Regions from separate parts of the Homo sapiens genome. Here region 2 is linked to region 1. Evidence: fine-mapped QTL for protein levels in blood plasma. A gene starts in region 1. The other region holds a variant in brackets. All regions are shown on one strand. Distances are between the middles of the regions.

Region 1 (5,360 bases):
GCCACTGTGTCTGGCCCTGAATCATTTATTTTATTTTGAGCCAGGTTCTGGCTCTGTTGCCCAGGCTGGAGTGCAGTGGCATGATCACGGCTCACTGTAGCCTCAACCTCCCAGGCTCATGCGATCCTCCCACCTTAGCCTCCCAAGTAACTGGGACCACAGGCACACACCACCGTGCCCAGCTAATTTTTATTTTTTATTTTTTATTTTTTTTGAGATGGAGTTTCGCTCTTGTTGCCCAGGCTGGAGTGCAATTGTGCGATCTCGGCCCACTGCAACCTCCGCCTTCCAGGTTCAAGTGATTCTCCTGCCTCAGCCTCTGGAGTAGCTGGGATTACAGGCATGCACCACCACGCCCGCCTAATTTTGTATTTTTAGTAGAGACGGGGTTTCTCCATGTTGCTCAGGCTGATCTCGAACTCCAGAGCTCAGGTGATCTGCCCACCTCAGCCTCCCAAAGTGCTGGGATTACAGGCGTGAGTCACTGTGCCCGGCCCAATTTTTAATTTTTTGTAGAAATGGAAGTCTCACTAGGTAGCCCAGGGTCTTCACCTCCTGGATTCAAGTGATCCTCCTGCTTCAGTCTCCTGAAGTGTTGGGATTACATGTAACAGTCACTTCATTCACCCTGAATCATTTATGTAGGGGACAAAAATCACCGTCTCTCCAAGGACAGAACTTCTTTTTTGTTTTGTTTTGTTTTGTTTTGTTGAGATGGAGTCTTGTTCTGTCACCCAGGCTGGAGTGCAGTGGCGCGATCTCTGCTCACTGCAACTTCTGCCTCCCGGGTTCCAGCCATTCTCCTGCCTCAGCCTCCCCAGTAGCTGGGATTACAGGCGCGCACCACCATGCCCAGCTAAGTTTTGTATTTTTAGTAGAGAAGGAGTTTCACTGGCCGAGCGTGGTGGCTCACACCTGTAATCCCAGCTACTAGGGAGGCTGAGGCAGGAGAATTGCTTGAACCTGGTAGACGGAGGTTGCAGTGAGCCGAGATCGCGCCATTGCACTCCAGCCTGGGCAACAAGAGCGAAACTCCGTCCACCCCAGCCAAAAAAAGAAGTGGTTTTGCCATGTTGGCCAGGCTGGTCTCTAACTTTTGACCTCATGATCCACCAGCCTCAGCCTCCCAAAGTGCTGGGATTACAGGCGTGAGCCACCGCGCCCGGCCTGGTCTCAAACTTTTGACCTCGTGATCCACCAGCCTCAGCCTCCCAAAGTGCTGGGATTATAGGCGTGAGCCACGGCGCCTGGCCGCAAAAATGGAACTTCTGCATCACAGGTGACTAACGGTGCCAGGCACACAGTAGGTGTTCAATAAATCACTTTGGACTAAAAGAACACAGAGGCCAAGGGGAAGTGAAGAAACGACTCACAGGTCAGTTTTATTGGGTGCCTAGTGCAGGGGTCAGTACACTACGGCCCTCGGATCAGCTCTGGCCCTCTGCCTGTTTTTGTAAATAAAGTTTTATTGGGTGCCTAGTGCAGGGGTCAGTACACTACGGCCCTGGGATAAGCTCTGGCCCACTGCCTGTTTTTGTAAATAAAGTTTTATGGGCACAGAGCCATGCCCATGGTTTTACATATTGTCTCTGGCTACTTTCACTCTGCGATGGCAGAGCAGAGTCATTGCCGCAGAGACTGTGGCCTGCAATGCTGAAAATATTTACTCTCTGGCCCTTTACAGAAAAAGTTTGCCAAACCCTGAGCTAGTGTGTGCTGGGCCCTGTGCCAAGCCCTTTGTGTGTGCTCACTCAGTTAACCCTCCCACAGCCTTAAGGGTGGGGGCAGGGGGGTGGGGGGGAATAAGGCTCCGAGAGGTTGAGAAACAGACCCAGGGTCACACAGCTTGGAGATGGGTGAGCTGGGAATCAGACAGACCCGGGACCCCTGATATTCTTTAGGATCTTAGCTTTGTTAACCTTTGCTAATTTATCTTATTGTCTTAAATGCTAAAATGAATACACATTCATTGTAAAAAGGGAGGAATAAAGAAAAGGTGTTGACGGCCTTCTTCAGCCTGGGGTACATCCTGCCGTATCTTTCTCCACAGCTCATCCGGGGCTACTTTCCTTTAAATCTACAGCCATTCAGCAAACATCGGCAGAGGAGAACCGTTTTATAAGAAAACTAAGAAGTTTGGAAGAATCTTTCCTTCCTGCCCACCCTGGACCCCCATGAGTAGGTGTGCTGGGGCTGGTCTGCAGTGTTCTCACGGGAAACCAGGAAGCTGGGCCCAAGGCCTACATGTTGGGGAAGACAGGTCCTGCCTGTCTCCTGCTGTGGCTCCCCAGTGCTCTGAGGACAAAGCCTGAGCTCTCCCTGATTCTCCACCGTCCCTCTCACTCACTCTGGTCGTCTGGTCGCTGGGCCTTTAGTGAGTGTGCCATGGGGGCCCTGGGGCCGATTAAATTCCAGCCCCGGGGACCAGGCTCAGCTCCCAGCCAGGGCACAGACAGATCAGCACCTGCGGTTGTCTCCACCCCAACCCCCGGCCTTTGCAGGCACAGCGCCCTCCACCAGATACTCCGGCAAAGGAGGCCTGGGGACCCTGCGAGCGGGGCCGGGGGTGCAGGGAGCTGTCAGCTCCTCGCAGCGGCCTCCCCAGGACCCCCCTATCCCCTCGCTCGCCCTGAAATGTGTGTCCCTCTCGGCGTCTGGGCTCTCGAGAAAGGCCTTTGCTTGTCTGACTTCGCGAGGGTCCCGGCTCTGGCCCAGGAGCTGGGGAGGGGCGGGACTTGGTGACAGCCGGGTCCCAGCACCGCGCCCAGACCTAGGCCCTTCTCAGGGGTGCCCCGGGGCGGGGCGCGCGGGGCGGGGGGCGGCGGCGGCGCAGCCGGCAGGAGGCGCAGCGCCCGCTCGCAGCGCGGGGAGGTGGGAGGGGAGCGGGGCGGGGAGCGGGGCGGGCGGGAGGGAGAGGGGAGCGCGCCGGAGACGCGCGCGCCCAGCCCACCCCCCGCGCCCGCCGCCGCCCGGACAATAAACAGCAGCTTTGCGCGGGGCGATGCCCGAGCCGGTGCCGCCGCCCCCGCGCCGCGCAGCCCCGGCCGCCAGGCCTTAGCCCGCCCCGGCCCCCGCCAGGCCGCGTCCCCCTCCCCTCCCCTCCCCCGCGCGCCACCCGCGCCCGCCCCCGCCCGGCACCGCGGACCCACCCGGACCTCGGCGGGGAGATGGAGTGAGTAGGCGCGCTCGGGCCGCGGGGCTGGGGGCCCGGAGCTCCGGGAGCCGGGGAGGGGGGAGGCCCCCTCTCTCGCGCCCCATTGGGGGCGTCGCTGCCCCCGCGAGGAGCAGGAGGCGGCGCGGGGCTGCTGGGGCCGCAGCGCAGCCGGGAAGAGACTCGGGCTGGGCCGCGCCTGCCGGGAGGCCTCCCCGCTCCCGGACCCCGGCTGCCCACCCACCGGCGCGTGGGGACCCGGGCAGCGGCGGCTCGGGCCAGTCCAGGACGCGGGGAGGGGGAGGCTCGCGTCTCCGCCCGCGCCCCGCCCGCGTCTCCAGGGCGAGCCTCGGCTCTCGGCCACCTGTGGGTGGCCCCGGGGAGATGGAGCGACCCCTCCCCAGATTGCACCGGTCCGGCCTCGCGCTCACGCACCCTTCCCCCGCCCCAGTCTGAGCGCACGGCTCCTGGCGCCCTGGACGCGCGCGCGGGCCGGTGCCCCCCACCCCCGCCCTTCCCAAGGGCCTCCAGGGGTGTCCTGAGCCCCCCGCCACTGCGCAGGTCCCGAGTTACCGCTGGAGGGAGAGGGGCTGCCCTCGGCTTCCCGGGTCTCTGGGGTGTGTGAGAAGGGAGAGGAACCGGCGTTTTCCAGCGGGGCGCCTGGGTGGGATACCCTCTCGGGGAAGTGTCTCGGAGCTGGGGCTCCACTGGTGTAGCTACAGGAGTGGGCTGGCCCTGGGCTGGGATCCCTGGACCCCCGCATGGCTGCGCCTGTGTGTGTGGGGGGGGGGTGGCCAGTGGAGGCACCGAGCGAGGGCGCGTGGTCATTTCGGACACCGGTCCCCTCCTCCCGGTGCTCGGGTGCCCCTCTGCCCCTCACTCCCACAGGTGGGCACTGCACGGGCAGGGGTCAGGAGGCTCCTCCTGGGGTCACCCACCTGCCCACTTCAGGACAGGGGAGCCAGCTGCCCTGCTGAGGCCCGGGTCCCCACCCCAGCCCGAGGACCGAAGACCGGATCTGGAGGCCGCCTGTGGCCCCCTGCCCTTCCCACTGGGCGTGTTTTCTAAGCCGCCAACTTTCCCCGGGGATTCACCCGTGACCCGCCACGCCCGCGGCTGGGTGGGGGCCGCTGCCTCCCTCCCTCCCTGGGAAAGCGAGACACCCAGTGTCCTCTGCTTTTGAAAACCCAGACAAAGGCCTGACCCCTCTCCCCGTCACCCCGCCCCGGGAGCTCAGCCAGGGGCTCAGGGGAGCCAGGGCCCAGACTTGCCTGCTCCACACCCCCACCCCCCAGCCTTGTTTATCTGCCCTGCTCGCCAGGCCCCGGAGGAGCCTCTGGGCCTCTGACAGCCAGGCCTGGGCAGGGTGTGGCTGTGGGGAGGGGGCTGCCTAGGAGGACGACGGAGATCTCCCTCCCAGAGGAGGGGTGTCAGCGAACACTCCGGGTCGGGCCCATTGTTTCCTTCCTGCCACCCCTTCCTTTCCCACGGGGGATACTGAGGCCCAGAGAGGAGCTGCTGCCCCCCCCCCACCCCCCCTCCATCACACAGCACCTGGGGCCGGGGGGCCTCGGTGCCTCCTGCTCTGCTCCACGGTTTCTCCGTCCTGGGTCAGAGGGTGGCCCACAGGTCCCCCATTGGGTCATCATTGCTTTTGGGGATGCAGACATGGGACAGGCACCCAGTGTTAACCGGCTGCTGTGAGCCGCCATTCGAGGACGACTCTCTCCCCGGTTCCCGGGCTGACAATGGGTGGGGACAGGCCCATCTGGTGCCGCCCGGCCTTGGACACCTGCCCCCTCGTTCTTCTCCCCGGCGGGCTTCAGGCACGAAGGCCCCGTCCGCTAGAACGTGATCGCTTGCCTCCTCCCGTTTCCACAGATTTTCCAGTCGAAGACACGGGAGCTGGCTGTGGTTTGTGGTGGTGCCCGTCTCGCTGGAAAGTTTCACAAATGAATTTAAGAATTTAAAGAATTTTAAATGTCATTCAAGAACAGGTTATTTTTTGTTAATGTGAGGATTTAAGGAGAACTAGCGGGTTGCTAACCACAGGGCCGATGCTGCCAAGGTGAGGAGAACGTCCAGGAAGGAGCTGGGGAGAATCTCTGCTTCGGAGAGAATCTCTGTGCTCTGGGAGGGTTTGTGTGGCCCCTGCGTGACACATGGTCTGGCTGGTAAAATAAAGATATTTTGGCCTGGAGCAGCCATT
Region 2 (5,360 bases), 14 kb after region 1:
CCTTTGCCCGGGACTCAGCTCCTCCGCCCAGCATGTAAGACCTTTTGTGATCCGACCTCCGCTTCCTTCCGTGACCCCTGCGCCGGGGTCCTGGTCCCAGCCTCGCCGATCACACGGGAATGAGACTCCCCCGCGCCTGGCGGGCCCCGCCCGCAGGAGGATGAACGCCGGGAGAAGGCCGCCCTGCCCGGCCTCAGTTTCCCCGTCGGTGAAATGGGGCTGACCCGGCCGCAGGAGGGAGCGAGCGCTGGGGGAGGCGTTCTCGGTTTGTGGCCGTTTTGATCCGTGCGTCGTGGTCATATTTCGCTTAATTTTTCCAATCTGTGACGTGGAGCGTTCTGTCGGCCTGACCTTGGCTACCCGGCGTCGGGGGCGGGTCCACACCCCTCCCGGATGGAAGCCCCTTCCTGGGCGGGCGCCCCCCGGACGCCCAGACGGGGACCCCCCTCCCCTCCCCCAGCCGCAGCGCGGGGGAGAAATTCCCGACCCCTCCCGCCCGTCTAGGCCGCCCCAGGCCCGAAGCCTCGGCCCCCCCCAATCCCCCCAAGCACAGGCCGGGGGCGGGAGATGCTGCGCCGGCCCCACCCCCGCGCGCCGGGCCTCGGCGTTGCCATGGGGACGGCGCGGTTGCCACGGCGACCGCCTCCCGCGGGCCCCTCCATCCATCACCGGGGCGGCGGCGCCCGGGTCTGGGGAGGGGCGAGGGGGGCGCATCCTGCGTGTCCTGGGGAAAGGCGAGGGGGCGTCCAGGCCCGGGGAGGGGCGAGGGGGGCGCCGGGTCTGGGGAGGGGCGAGGGGGGCGCCGGGTCTGGGGAGGGGCAAGGGGGGCGCATCCTGCGTGTCCTGGGGAAAGGCGAGGGGGCGCCCGGGCCTGGGGAGAGGTGAGGGGGGCGCCGGGTCTGGGGAGGGGCGAGAGGGGCGCCCGGGCCTGGGGAGAGTGAAGGGGGCGCCGGGTCTGGGGAGGGGCGAGGGGGGCGCCGGGTCTGGGGAGGGGCGAGGGGGGCGCCCGTGACTGCGGGGGCCAGGGGGGCGCGTCCTGGGGAGGGGCCTGCGCCCTGGGGCTGCTTCCCGCGCGTTCCCTGCCCGCCCGCCTGACATTCCCCCGCCCTGGCCGGCCGGGCAGGGACAGGCTGCCCCAGACACTACCGCCTTGTCTCCAGCCTGGGAGGCGGCCACACAGCCACACTCTGTCCCCGGGTCCGGTCTGAGCGGCCACCTGCCTGCCGGGTGGGGACCTGGGCAGTCGGCGACCAGCCTGATCCTGGGGCCCAGGAGTTCCGCCGTTTTGTGGACCTCCCGCCCCAGCTCTGCTCCCTCCGGGGTGGCCCCGAGCCCACTTAGAGCTGGAAACCAGGACTGTGGGGTGGCCCGGGGCTGGGCGGTTGTTGTTCCAATCTGGCTGTGCCCAGGGCCACGCTGTGCCCTCCCTGGACGTGGCTTCCAGCCATGGGAAGAAGGTGCCGGGCAGGGGGAACCGTGTGTGAGAGGCCCTGGGGTAGGAGGCTTGGTGCATAGCCAGGGGGCCCTGCAGGAGTAGACCAACGGGGGAAGTGAAGGGGCCGACCTGAGGGTTCCTCTAAGGGCTGATGGGAGCCAGGGAGCCTCTAGAGCTGGAGAGGGACAGGGTCTGATTAATTATTATTATTATTATTGTTATTTTGAGATAGGGTTTCACTCTGTCCCCCAGGCTAGAGTGCGGTGGCACGATCTCGGCTCACTGCAACCTCCACCTCCCGGGTTCAAGTGATCCTCCTGCCTCAGCCTCCCGAGTAGCTGGGATTACAGGCGCCTGGCACCACCCCCAGCTAATTTTTGTATTTTTAGTAGAGACTGGGTTTTGCCTTGTTGGCCAGGATGGTCTCAAACTCCTAACCTCAAGTGACCTGCCCACCTTGGCCTCCCGAAGTGCTAGGATTACAGGCATGAGCCACCGTGCCTGGCCTTCTTTTTTTAATTTTAAAAAAATTTTTTGTTTGTTTGTTTTGTTTTTTGAGACAGAGTTTCTCTCTTGTTGCCCAGGCTGGAGTGCAATGGTATGATCTCGGCTCACCGTGACTTCTGCCTCCCAGGTTCAAGTGATTCTCCTGCCTCAGCCTCCTGAGTAGCTGGGATTACAGGCATGTGCCACCATGCCCGGCTAATTTTTGTATTTTTAGTAGAGATGGGGTTTCTCCATGTTAGTCAGGCTGGTCTCAAACTCCTGACCTCAGGTGATCCACCCGCCTTGGCCTCCCAAAGTGCTGGGATTCCAGGCGTGAGCCACTGCACCTGGCCCATTTTTAAAAATTTTCATTTTTTTAATATATATTTTTTGAGACGGAGTCTCGCTCTGTCGCCCAGGCTGGAGTGCAGTGGCGCAATCTCGGCTCACTGCAAGCTCCGCCTTCCGGGTTCACGCCATTCTCCTGCCTCAGCCTCCCGAGTAGCTGGGACTACAGGCACCCGCCACCACGCCGGGCTAATTTTTTGTGTTTTTAGTAGAGACGGGGTTTCACCGTGTTAGCCAGGATGGTCTCGATCTCCTGACCTCGTGATCCGCCC[G/A]CCTCGGCCTCCCAAAGTGCTGGGATTACAGGCGTGAGCCAGCGCACCCGGCCTTAAATTTTTATTTTTGAGACAAAGTCTTGCTCTGTCACCTAGGCTGGAGACAGTGGCACAATCACGGCTCGACCCAGCCTCAACCTCCTGGATTCAAGTGATCCTCCCACCTCAGCCTCCCAAGTAGCTGGGACCACAGGGACATACCACCACACCTGGCTTTTTATTTATTTAGTTAGTTAGTTATTTTTGTAGAGACAGGCTCTTGCTATGTTGCCCAGGCTGGTCTCGAACTCCTGGGCTCAAGCGATCCACTGGCCTTCACCTCCCAAAATGCTGGAATTACAGGCTTGAGCCACCACACCTGGCCTAGGGTCTGATTCTCTTTTTGAGAAGCTGCCTCTGGCTGGCGGGTGGAGAGGGAGCTGTGAGGGGGCAGGGAGTTGGCAGGGAACACTAGAGGCCTGGGCTAGGGTGGGGAACTTGGGGTAGGCAGGAAGCGAGGGCCCGGGCCTCAAGGGAACGCACAGTGGATGGTTCACTGCCTGCATCACCCGTTGCTGGGGCTGACCGAGAACTCCAGCTGAGCTGGCTATTCAGGAAGGGCCCCCAAGCCAGAAAGCTGGATCAAGCCTTTCCTGAACCCCACCCGGTGAAGGCAGCTGAACCCAGCCTCCCTGAGGAGGGAGAAGGGAAAGCCACAGAGGGCGCAGCTGGTGTTCCCGGGCCCCTGGGAGGCACCGGGAAGGGTAGGTGTCACCTGCCAGGAAGGGAGGAGCCGGTGGGGTCACCTCTGGGGCATGGGAGCTGGACAACTTCACAGGCCTCAGCAGGGCCAGGAAACCAAACCCGAGTGGGGTGGGCAGGCGGGGCGCCTCGGGCTCCAGGGAGGTCTTGACCCGGAGCAGCCTCCCAGGCGGGGCTGGGGGTGAGCCAGTGCACTGTGCAGTTTCATTTTCTCTGCTGAACTGGGGGAGGGGATGGGGGCACAAGGGGGACGTCATAGGAGGCCTTAGAGCTGCAGGCATCTGTGCCTCCGTGTTTGCGTGGATGGGGAAACTGAGGCCCAGAGAGGCACGAGGGCTCTTTGGAGGCAGGGCTGGCTCTGGGCCCTGACACCAGGCTGAGAGGGCTGGGGGTGGCAGCAGACACGAAGGGCAGGCTGTAATTTCAGTCTCTGGGAAGATAAGATGTTGGGGGTCGGGGGAACCTGTCTCCCACCCCTCACCCCTGGTTCCCGCCAGGCCCTGCCCGTCAGCCTGGGCCTCCCCCTGTTGATGCCGCCCAGAGCTTGGGACACCCACCGCCAACCCCTACCGTCCTCTCCCTGCCTCGCTGCAACAGCCTTGGAAGCCTGAGGGTCGCTGGGAAGGTCAAGGCCAAGCTCAGCCCCAGTCTAGGGCTCGGTGCTCCTTGCGTTTTTCTTTTTGTTGTTTTGTTTTGTTTTGTTTTTGACGGAGTCTCGCTTTGTTGCCCTGGCTGGAGTGCAGCGCGTGATCTCTGCTCACTGCAACCTCCGCCTCCTGGGTTCAATCAATTCTCCTGCCTCAGCTCCTCAAGTAGCTGGTTTTACAGGTGCCTGCCATCACGCTCGGCTAATTTTTGTATTTTTTGGTAGAGACGGGGTTTTACCGTCTCTGTTGGCCAGGCTGGTCTCGAACTTCCGACCTCAGGTAATCCGCTCGCATCGGCCTCCCAGAGCGCTGGGATTACAGGCGTGAGCCACCGCGCCCGGCCTGCTTTTTGCATTTTACTAAGCACCTACTACGTGCAGCTTTCTGAGGGCCCACAGACCAGGGAGGGGAGGGGAGGGTTTGGGTGGCAAAGCTCTTCTTCTAGCAGGTGGGAGGGGAAGCGAGAAAGCAGTGGGGTGGGGGTGCCCTGAACTCCGTGTGAACCACGGGGCTGCAGACAGATGAGGAGAGGGGCTCTGCACCAGCTTCTGGAGCTGCAGGGCGAGGTTGCTGTGGGGAGGTCAGAGAACCACAGAATTCCTCGGTTCTTTCCTGGGCGAGTGAGCGTGTGGTGGGTGCCTGGTGGGGGTGGCGAGGGCTTCGGTTTCTGGACCTCCTTCCCACACCACAAAGGGCCCTGTATCTTTGAAGCCTGAAGCCCGGTCCCTTCAGGCGTATCCGGCAACAGTGGTATTCATTCATTCATTTATTGTTTGTTTGTTTGTTTGAGGTGGAGTCTTGCTCTGTTGCCCAGGCTGGAGTGCAGTGGCGCGATCTCGGCTCATGCAACCTCTGCCTCCTGGGTTCAAGCCATTCTCCTGTCTCGGCCTCCAAGTAGCTGGGATTACAGGTGCCGACCACCACGCCTGGCTAATTTTTGTATTTTTAGTAGAGACGGGGGTTTCACCATGTTGGGCAGGCTGGTCTAGAACTCCTGACCTCAGGTGATCCTCCCACCTCAGCCTCCCAAAGTGCTGGGATTACAAGCGTGAGCCACTGCGCCCGGCCATTCATTCATTTTTGAGACAGAGCCTCATGCTGCTGCCCAGGCTGGAGTAGGGTGGTGGGGTCATGGCTCACTGCCCCCTGGACCTCCCAGGCTCAAGCAGTCCTCCCACCTTAGCCTCCCGAGTAGCTGGGACTACAGGCGCACACCACCACACCTTGATAATATTTTTTATTTTTATTTTTGGTAGAGATGGGGTCTTACTAGATTGCCTAGGCTGGTCTCGAACTCCTGGGCTGGAGTAATCCTCCCACCTCGGCCTCCCAAAGTGCTAAAATTACAGGCGTGAGCAGCTGTGGTTTTGCTTTTGTTTTGTTTTGCGACAGGGTCTCACTCTGTTGCCCACGCTGGAGGGCAGTGGCGCG

Which allele goes with the higher level. Alleles are on the strand shown, and positions count from the first base shown. The strength of an association depends on the size of the effect and on how common the allele is.
As copies of A replace G in region 2, the plasma level of the protein whose gene starts at base 2,956 in region 1 goes up (weak association).

The links. PIP is the posterior inclusion probability: the model's chance that the variant is causal. Protein levels are from antibody-based Olink assays in UK Biobank. Linkage for the fine-mapping came from a reference panel and not from the study's own genotypes, which makes the PIPs less certain.
Region 2: its variant is fine-mapped to the plasma level of the PALM protein (UK Biobank, PIP above 0.99).

Annotation. Positions count from the first base shown.
Region 1 is chr19:705,980-711,339 of GRCh38, forward strand. PALM (paralemmin) reads left to right here and starts at 2,956. Exons shown (of 9, transcript NM_002579.3): 1 at 2,956-3,172. The coding sequence starts at 3,168. RefSeq lists an enhancer at 1,953-2,513 and a silencer at 1,966-2,202.
Region 2 is chr19:719,624-724,983 of GRCh38, forward strand. All of the region lies in intron 1 of PALM (paralemmin), which reads left to right. Among named protein-coding and RNA genes, the nearest start is that of PALM, 13 kb to the left of the region's middle. The variant G/A (reference allele first, on the strand shown) is at 2,542.